Homo sapiens: one gene and its partner. The protein of the gene in region 1 purifies or fractionates together with the protein of each later gene. This does not show direct contact. Each region holds a gene or a part of one and is shown on either strand. Other genes may lie near its edges.

The links.
Region 2: the proteins of THBS2 (region 1) and EDEM2 purify together in Homo sapiens (affinity purification with mass spectrometry; 2 studies listed by BioGRID and IntAct, with this or other methods). This does not show direct contact.

Annotation. Positions count from the first base shown.
Region 1 is NC_000006.12:169,250,907-169,255,431, forward strand, and holds the start of THBS2 (thrombospondin-2 isoform 1 precursor), read right to left. Parts: upstream 2,941-4,525; 5' UTR 2,818-2,940; intron 1-2,817. UniProt on the Homo sapiens protein: Adhesive glycoprotein that mediates cell-to-cell and cell-to-matrix interactions. Ligand for CD36 mediating antiangiogenic properties.
Region 2 is NC_000020.11:35,140,533-35,144,345, reverse strand, and holds part of EDEM2 (ER degradation-enhancing alpha-mannosidase-like protein 2 isoform 1 precursor), read left to right. Parts: intron 1-1,867; coding exon 1,868-1,973; intron 1,974-3,813. Other genes in the region: MMP24-AS1-EDEM2 (ER degradation-enhancing alpha-mannosidase-like protein 2), read left to right, coding at 1,868-1,973. UniProt on the Homo sapiens protein: Involved in the endoplasmic reticulum-associated degradation (ERAD) pathway that targets misfolded glycoproteins for degradation in an N-glycan-dependent manner.

The DNA of each region.
Region 1 (4,525 bases):
TTGCATATAAAACTCAGCACCAACTGGATTTGTGGCAAACTGAGAGCGAAGGAGGAAATTTACTCTTCAAGCAGGATTCTTCTAACTATAAGATTTGTTGAGCTAGCATTTGCCGGCAAGCACTGCACATCACGTTCTAAATATTCCTATTATTTCATCTTCATAATAGCCTGGGAGGTATGTGCTGCTCTAATTGTCCTCATTTTACAGATGAGCAAATGGAAGATGGGCAAGTTCAGCGCTTGCCTGGAGTAATTCTGTTCATACGACTCGTAGACAGGACTTAGATGTAGAAAGTTTGAATTTAGAAAAATATCCAGCCTGACAAAAATAATCTGTGAACGCATTTTGTGTAAATATCCAGCAAAAAACAGTTATGCATAACCTAATTAAATAGAATGAATATCAACTGTAAAAAAAAGTTACAAATAAACTTAATTTGGTGAATTATACTTACAAAACAACAGAACACTTGACTTAGCCATCATTTTGACCCTGCCTCTTTATTTTCCTGCAGGCCTGTTTTTCCATTCTTGGGGATTTTAAGTTGGCACAGCTCAGTGGAGGCTGGCCCCGAAGTCAGGAGATGTGGTCCAAAGCCCGGCTGGGCGATTAACCCTGTGGATCTCAGCTTCTCCTCTTCCGGGCGAGCATGAGCCTGAGGGTCCCAGGGCTCCCCAGGTCCCTTCCAGCAATTGGTCACACCCTGCTCTAGGTTGAAGGGAAGACTGAGACCCCAATTCTTCCCATATTTAGAATATCAAAGGCCGTTAACTTCTCATTGTTAATCCAAGGACTCTCCCTCTCCAGAAACAACATTTGGTAACCTGGAAATCCTCACCTTCCAGGAATAGAGAAACATTCCTCAGAAGAAGAGAAATGCTTGGCAGCACCTGCAGACCCCCCACCCATCTGCTGCTGGGACCCCCCCCCCAAACCATCTGCTCCCCCCAGTGCCGCCCCAGGGGTCCTTGGTGATTGTTTCATCTGTCCTGGCTCCGGAAGCAGCACGGCCTGCGGCCGGAGTCAGCACCAGGCTGAGCAATGCTGAGCACCAGCTGTGCAACCTAGGGAAACTTACTTAACTTCTCTGTCTCAGTTTCCTCATCCGTAGAATGAAACGTAGCGTCATGTAAAATGCCCACCTCATCGGGTTGTCATGAGAGATGAATTCGGCAAATGAAACTTCACCAGGGGCTGACTTAGCCCAGCGAGCCACAGGCATGGGTTACCGGAGCAGAATGTGCCTCTGGGTCTGGGGCGCTTTCTACTCTAACTGCCCGAGGCAGCTGCAGTAATAATGGTGGTGCTGATAGGGCCTTTCTATGGAGCTCTTAAGAGGGTTTAATGACAGGAGCGAACACTTGGCCATGAGCTTAGAACAGTACCTGCATGCAGTAAGCACCACAGAACGGTGTTAGAATACACAGCTCAGGTACAGCCTTGGCAGGCTCTTCCCACCTCCCCACCTCATCAGCCCACACTGCCGGGTACGTCGCAGTCCCCTAAGGACAGCTGTGTGGGGCTGGCCCTGCAGAGGCCAGCCAAGAACAGGATGGTAAATGCGAAAGTTCTGGATGCCCAGCTTCATAAGGACAGGTTAGAAAAACTAAATCAAACTCCTTTGACGAAACCAGATCCTACTGTCTCTGCCTTGAGGTAGATTCTTACAAGAGCAGGAGGCTAACAAAGCATCCCCTGCTGCGGATTGTCAAAGGACAGTGAGGCTCCATCCCACAGGAAGGATGAGCAGCCAGGCTACCTGGCCTCAGCCCATCCAGGGACACCGGGCATGCATGGATGGAGCCACGGATGAGCCAGTGCCGCTCACCCCTGCCCCAGCCTCTGCACGCCACACATCCACGTTTATGCTTGTGTTTTTCCAAAAGAAAGATTTCGGTGCCTGTCTGCAGCAGAATGTAGTTTGAATTTGCAAAGGTCTTTTAAAACTCTTTTCGTATGAACAATCAAAGTAAAAGATAGCTTTGCAGAGAGCTAATTGTTTACCGGCCGTCCACCACCAACAGCAGTCTGATTAAACACCAGACTCCTGGGTGCTCAGCTCCCAGTCCTGGGCAGCCAAACCCACCTTCCTTAAGTGGTAGCCAGGCAACCTGCCAGCTCGCTTTTCATATGCAAACTGCCCCAAGACTGTTAAAAGTCGCTGTGTGTCCCGGCAGTCACAGGATTTTCCATAGACTTACCACAAATACTCTCTAGTTATGTTCAAAACCACTTTTCAGCTGCTAATAATGTTAACAATCAGAGTCTCTCTTTAATCTACTAATAATGTTAACAATCAGAGTCTCTCTTTAATCTACTAATAATGTTAACGATCAGAGTCTCTCTCTAATCTACTAATAATGATGTTAACAATCAGAGTCTCTCTCTAATCTCCAGTTACTTTTCAGATATTCCGGGAGTTGTTTCTAATTCTCTCCTCAATAACAAACTCTCATGTGGAATCTTCTTCTTCGGAAACTGAAAACATAAAGCGTTTACCCGGGTTCCCAGGCAGGTATATACATTGAAATAGCAGCAGCCACAACCCTCAGAGAGGAAGGGGTGCCCGGCTGGTGAAAGCACAGCCACGGAGGAAAAGCTGAGGAGCGGCCACGTGCCTTGCTCTTCAAGCGGGCAGTAGAAACACCACGTGAAGAAACACTTGCCATTTAGTGTTAATAGATACACCACCCACCTTAAGTTAAGAATCGAAATTGCTCCTTTTTCTTCTCCGCTTCTTAGAGTTCGAGAACTCTAATTTCTTAAAATTAGAGCACCATTAAATAATTGATTGAGTTTAAGAAATAATCGTACCTGGTTTGCCAAAAAGATGCAGTGATGACTGGTTTCAGTGTTCCGGACCGAGTCAGAAAGGCGCAGGCTCTGCTGGAGCGAGAGACCGGCCCTGCAGTGCAGGATGCTCCGGTGGACGTGGCCGAGCGGCTCCCGGGCAGCGCGGCTTTATATGCCGCTTCTCCTGTGCAGGGCTGTCAATCAGACACACGAGGAAGCACGTTTAATTCATTCCTTCGAAGGAATGACATCATCCCCCTTCTGATCTCACCATTTGCTCCGAGTACCTGCTGCAGGGGTCCAAGTCCAGCCCCTCTGTACTGGATGCCGTCTCCTCCTCCTGCACCCCGGCCCCTGCCAGACAGGCCTGGGAGGAGCCAGACGGAGAGAGGGAAGGCAGGGACTCACTTTTCCTGTCTTCTCTCAGGAAATAAGATGCTATAAATAACACTAGCAAGATTGGCTAGAACTCCTCATTTTGCTTAAGAGAAAAAAATGCAAGTTCTATGCCTTAAATATGTTTCGAATTACTCAATGTGATATTGGTCTTTCTAAACCAAATGAGTGACTCTCAATAACACATGAAATACATCGGTGAGTATCAATAATCAGTCTGTATATTAATAAAGTTATTATGGTCAATAATCAAGTGTATTATGTGACAAAAATGAAATTTAATATAAAAGGAAGTTGCCAACATTTATCTCAGGCAGTTAGAGGACTGAAAAGCTGTACTGCAGCTTTGGGAAAATTCATTTTTACCCAAATTCTGCTTCATTTGCTCAGTGAGGATCCCCTAGAAGGACGTCTCCCAGTGGACGTGCAATACCCGTAGAAGGGTGTGTCCCAGTGGACGTACAGTACCCGGCCAAGTCCCCTTGGTGCACACTTGCACGTGGCCCCATCACAGGAACAACCTGACGTGCAGGCACAGAGCAAGGACTCGAGAGAACGAGAAGCAGTGGCAGCAGCTAACCCCCGCCCCTCCCACACCTCAGGCATCACCCGCAATCAGGGTGCACTCTGCATGGGGGTGGGGGGCACCGCTTCTCAGAGGTCAGGGTGGACGATGGATGCGGAGGGGCTGCTTCTCCCAGGTCAGGGTATACAGTGGAAAGGGGAAGCTGCTGCTCTAAGGTGGGGGTTGATGGTACATGGGGGAGGGGCTGCTTCTCCCAAGTTGGGCTGGACAGTGGATGGGGGAGGTGCCACTTCTCCCAGGCCAGTGTGAAAGGTGGATGGTGGAGAGGCTGTTTCTCCCAGGTCAGTGTGCAAGGTGGCTGGGGATGTGTTGTTTCTCCCAGGTCAGGGTTAATGGCAGACAGGGGAGCTGCTGCTTCTCCTGGGTTGGGGTGGACCTTGGATGGGGGAGGTGCTACTTCCCCAGGTGGGGTGGATGGTGACTGGGGAGCTGCTGCTTTGCCCGGAGCCACCTGCACCTGCTTCATGTCGGCACCTGCCTGTCAGGTTCCTTCACGTTTGTGTGGAGTTGTCAGCCTGGCCATGGATCCGTCAAGTCCTAGTTAGAGAACATTAAAGCGAATTTCTGTGGACACAACCCTTACTGTGTCTGTGGCAGGGGAGTGTCTCTTAAGCCTCCTGGCATTCCCCCACAGGGGTCCAGCGCTGCAGAGGTCGGCAGGCACCATGAAGAGCAAGCCTCACTTTCTGGCCTCTGTCTTCAGGGAGGATATGCGAGCGGGTGTGGGAGAGGGAAGGAGCTTTCATT
Region 2 (3,813 bases), on another chromosome or scaffold:
AAATTATAAAGAAATAATATCAGTGACTAGTTAGTATGTTTCTGTAGGGCTTAGTACAGACATGTATTAATTCTTCTAACAACTTCTTGAGGTTAGTACCTTTACTCCTTCTTATCGTTAAGAAACCTGATGCTTAGGGATGGGCACAGTGGCTCACGCCTGTAATCCCAGCACTTTGGGAGGCCAAGGCGGCAGGACTGCTTGAGCACAGGAGTTCAAGACCAGCCTGGGCAATATGGTGAAACCCCGTCTCTACCAAAAATATAAAAAATTAGGCATGATGGCACATGTCTGTGGCTCCATTTGTTAGGGAGGAGGGTGAGGTAGGAGGATTGTTTGAGTCAGGGAGGCAGAGGTTGCAGTGAGCCGAGATCGCACCACTGCACTCTGGTCTGGGTAACAGAGTAAAACCCTGTCTCACACAAACAAAAAAAAGATATAAAAGAAACCTGATGCTTAGAAAGGTAAAAAGGGCCAGGTGTGGTGGCTCATGCCTGTAATCCCAGCACTTTGGGAGGCCAACATTGCTCAAGTCCCAGAGTTCGAGGCTGTGATGAGCTATGATCACACCACTGCACTCCAACCTGTGTAACAGAGCAAGACCCTGTCTCAAAAAAAAGACTTGGACTGGTTCAGGTCAAGTACCCACTCCACAGCTAGAGGGATGGGATCAGCCTCTCCCAAACCACAGGAGTGACTGCCGGGGAAGAGTGATTCCTCGAGGGTAAATTGAGATGTTACTATCAAAAGAAGAGAGATTGAGATTGCATTTGGCTAACGGTTTAAATAAAGAGGGTTTATTTTCTCAAGTAAAAGAAAGTCTAGAGGTAATTTCTAGCATTGGGTCAGCTACGCAACTGTGTCATTAGAGACCAGCCTCTTTGTAGCTTTGCATTCTAGTATCGTTAGTGTTTTGGCTTTTATTCTAATGCTTAGTACGTCATGGTCTCACATAGCTGCCATCACTTCAGAAATCGAGTCTGAGTTCAAGGCAGAAAGAGAGAGACTAAAAGCCATGTTAGCTGTGTTTGTCCCTTGGTATTAAGAAAACAGAAGCCTTCCCAGAAGTGCCCCCAGTAGACCTCTCAAGGGTCAGAATTGACTGGGTAACACAATCAACTGCAGCAGCAAAGGAGGCCGAGAAAGCTTCTGGATTTCCAACCTCTGGTGGGAGGCCATGAGGTAAAGAGGGTAGGAATGAATTTGTTTTGGGCCAACCAACCTGTTCTGTTTTCCACAAGGTTGAAGGTGACAACTGGTATCTACTGCAAATGTCAAACTAAGACTTTTGGCCAGGTGCGGTCGCTCACACCTGTAATCCCAGCACTTTGGGAGGCCAAGGCGGGTGGATCATGAGGTCAGGAGTTTGAGACCAGCCTGATCAACATGGTGAAACCCCGTCTCTACTAAAAATACAAAAATTAGCCGGGCATGGTGGTGCATAATCCCAGCTACTCGGGGCTGAGGCAGGAGAATCGCTTGAACCCAGGAGGCGGAGTTTGAAGTGAGCCAAGATCACGCCACTGCACTCTACCCTGGGCAGCAGAGCGAGACTCTGTCTCAAAAAAACGAAACAAAAAACCTAAGACTTCTATGCGTAGTTTGCGTTCTTTATATTGTGTCCATTTAAATGACAACATCGTGACTCTTAATTGGGACCTAGGAATTTACTTAACCAGTCTCTTGGTATGAAGTCTCTAGATGATTTCTAGCTCTCAGTGTTTTCTTCTGCTGTCACCAATCCTAGGACAGAAACTGGAGGTCTTAAGTGGAATTAGTGAGGGCCACATCAACATAGGATCCCAGACTCTGAATCTGCCTCCATGCATGTAAGAGCCTCATTGTCAGGTCTCTTTTTTATTTCCAGATTTTGGGGAATGTCTCAGAATTCCAAAGAGTGGTTGAAGTGCTCCAGGACAGCGTGGACTTTGATATTGATGTGAACGCCTCTGTGTTTGAAACAAACATTCGAGGTAAGGGCTGCTCTCTAGGACCTTTAAAAGAAAAAAGAGTGTGAAGTTGCCTCTGTAAACCAAGAAGTGGTAAATAGGATTTTAAGGACTGACCATGCCAGGACCCTTGGCCAAAACCTCTGACCGACAGAGCTCTTCTTCCCTCCTGGAGGGTGAGGTGGGGAAGTCTCAGGATTTCCCCATCAGTTTCAGATATGAAAGTGAGCAGGAGACTAAGAGACTGGAAAGAAATACACCAGATTACTCACCTCTTTAATATGTATTTGATACTAGGCATACAGCTATGAACAAGAAAGATATGATCCTTGCCTTCTTGGAACTTATTGTCTGTCCAATCCAATTTTCTGCAGTGATGGAAATGTCTTATAGCTGTGTTTTGTCCAGTATGGTAGCCACGAACCACATGAGCTATTGAGCATTTGAAATGTATCTACTACAACTATGGAATTGAATTTTTAATTTCATTTAATTTTAATGATATTAAATTTAAGTAGTCACATGTAGTTAGTGATTATTGTATTGGACAGTGCAAATCTACAGCATTAATCTTCCAAACTTGGCAGCCCATAGGAACCACTCCCAAGTGGTTAAAAAATTCAGATGTTGAGACTCCACCCTAAACCTAATGAATTGGAATCTCTGTGTTGGGTCCTAGAATCAGTATTTTTAGCAGACTTCCAGTGATTCTTGTGAAGCCAGCACAGCCCTTATTTGCATCGAACCTCTAGACCACTTAACAGCTGTCACCTCTGGATGGCAGAGTTCTATTTTTCCCCATTATTTTGTATGTTTTCTGCAATGAAACTTATATTCCAGACATATGATCCATAAAAGATTAAAAAAGAGAAGAGAGCAGAGGGACAACATGGTCTAAAATCCTGGTTTAGGAATCCGGCCTGAGTTTGAGGCTGTACTTGCTGCTATGTCTCCCAGCTTCTGAGCCCAGTTTGTCATCTGTAAATGAAGGTCATTCTTATACCTTTATTTCTGATAGGAATATAAGTGATACCAGCTTTCTTTTGGTTGACATTTTCCCATGTATCTTTTTCTATCCTTTCCATCTTTCTGTAGTTTTATGATTAGATACATCTTTTGCAAATAGTGTATTATATTTTGTTTATCCATTCTGACAATCTTTAACTGGCACATTTAATCCATTTACATTTACTGTAATTACTGATATATTTGCACTCATTTCTACAGTATTGTGCTCTCTGTGCCGTCTTCTTTTTTTTTTTTTTTTTTTTTTTTTTGAGGCGGAGTCTCACTCTGTCGCCCAGGCGGGAGTGTAGTGGTGCAATCTTGGCTTACTGCAACCTCTGCCTCCCGGGTTCAGGCGATTCTCCTGTCTCAGCCTCCTATGTAGCTGGGATTGCAGGTGCCTGCCACCGTGCCCTGCTAATTTTTGTATTTTTAGTAGAGATGGGGTTTCACCATGTTGGCCAGGCTAGTCTCGAACTCCTGACCTCAGGTGATCCGCCCCCCATCAGCCTCCCAAAGTGCTGGGATTATAGGTGTGAGCCACTGCACCTGGCCCTGTGCCATCTTCTTTATGTTCCTTTATTCTGTCCTTTTTCATGCCTTCTTTAGATTGTTTTCCCCCCATTCCATTTTCCTCTTACTAATATGGAAATTATGCACAATATCTAGCTTTTTACATAGTTTTCCAAGCAAATTTAACAAACATAACTTATCAAAGTCTAAATTTAATGAAAATCTTTGTTCTCCTCCTGAATAATGCAAAACCTGACTTAGAGAACATCCTGACCTATATGCTACAGTTATATATTTTAGTTATTTGTTTTAAACCTTCCATACATTATAATTTTTGTTCTATATT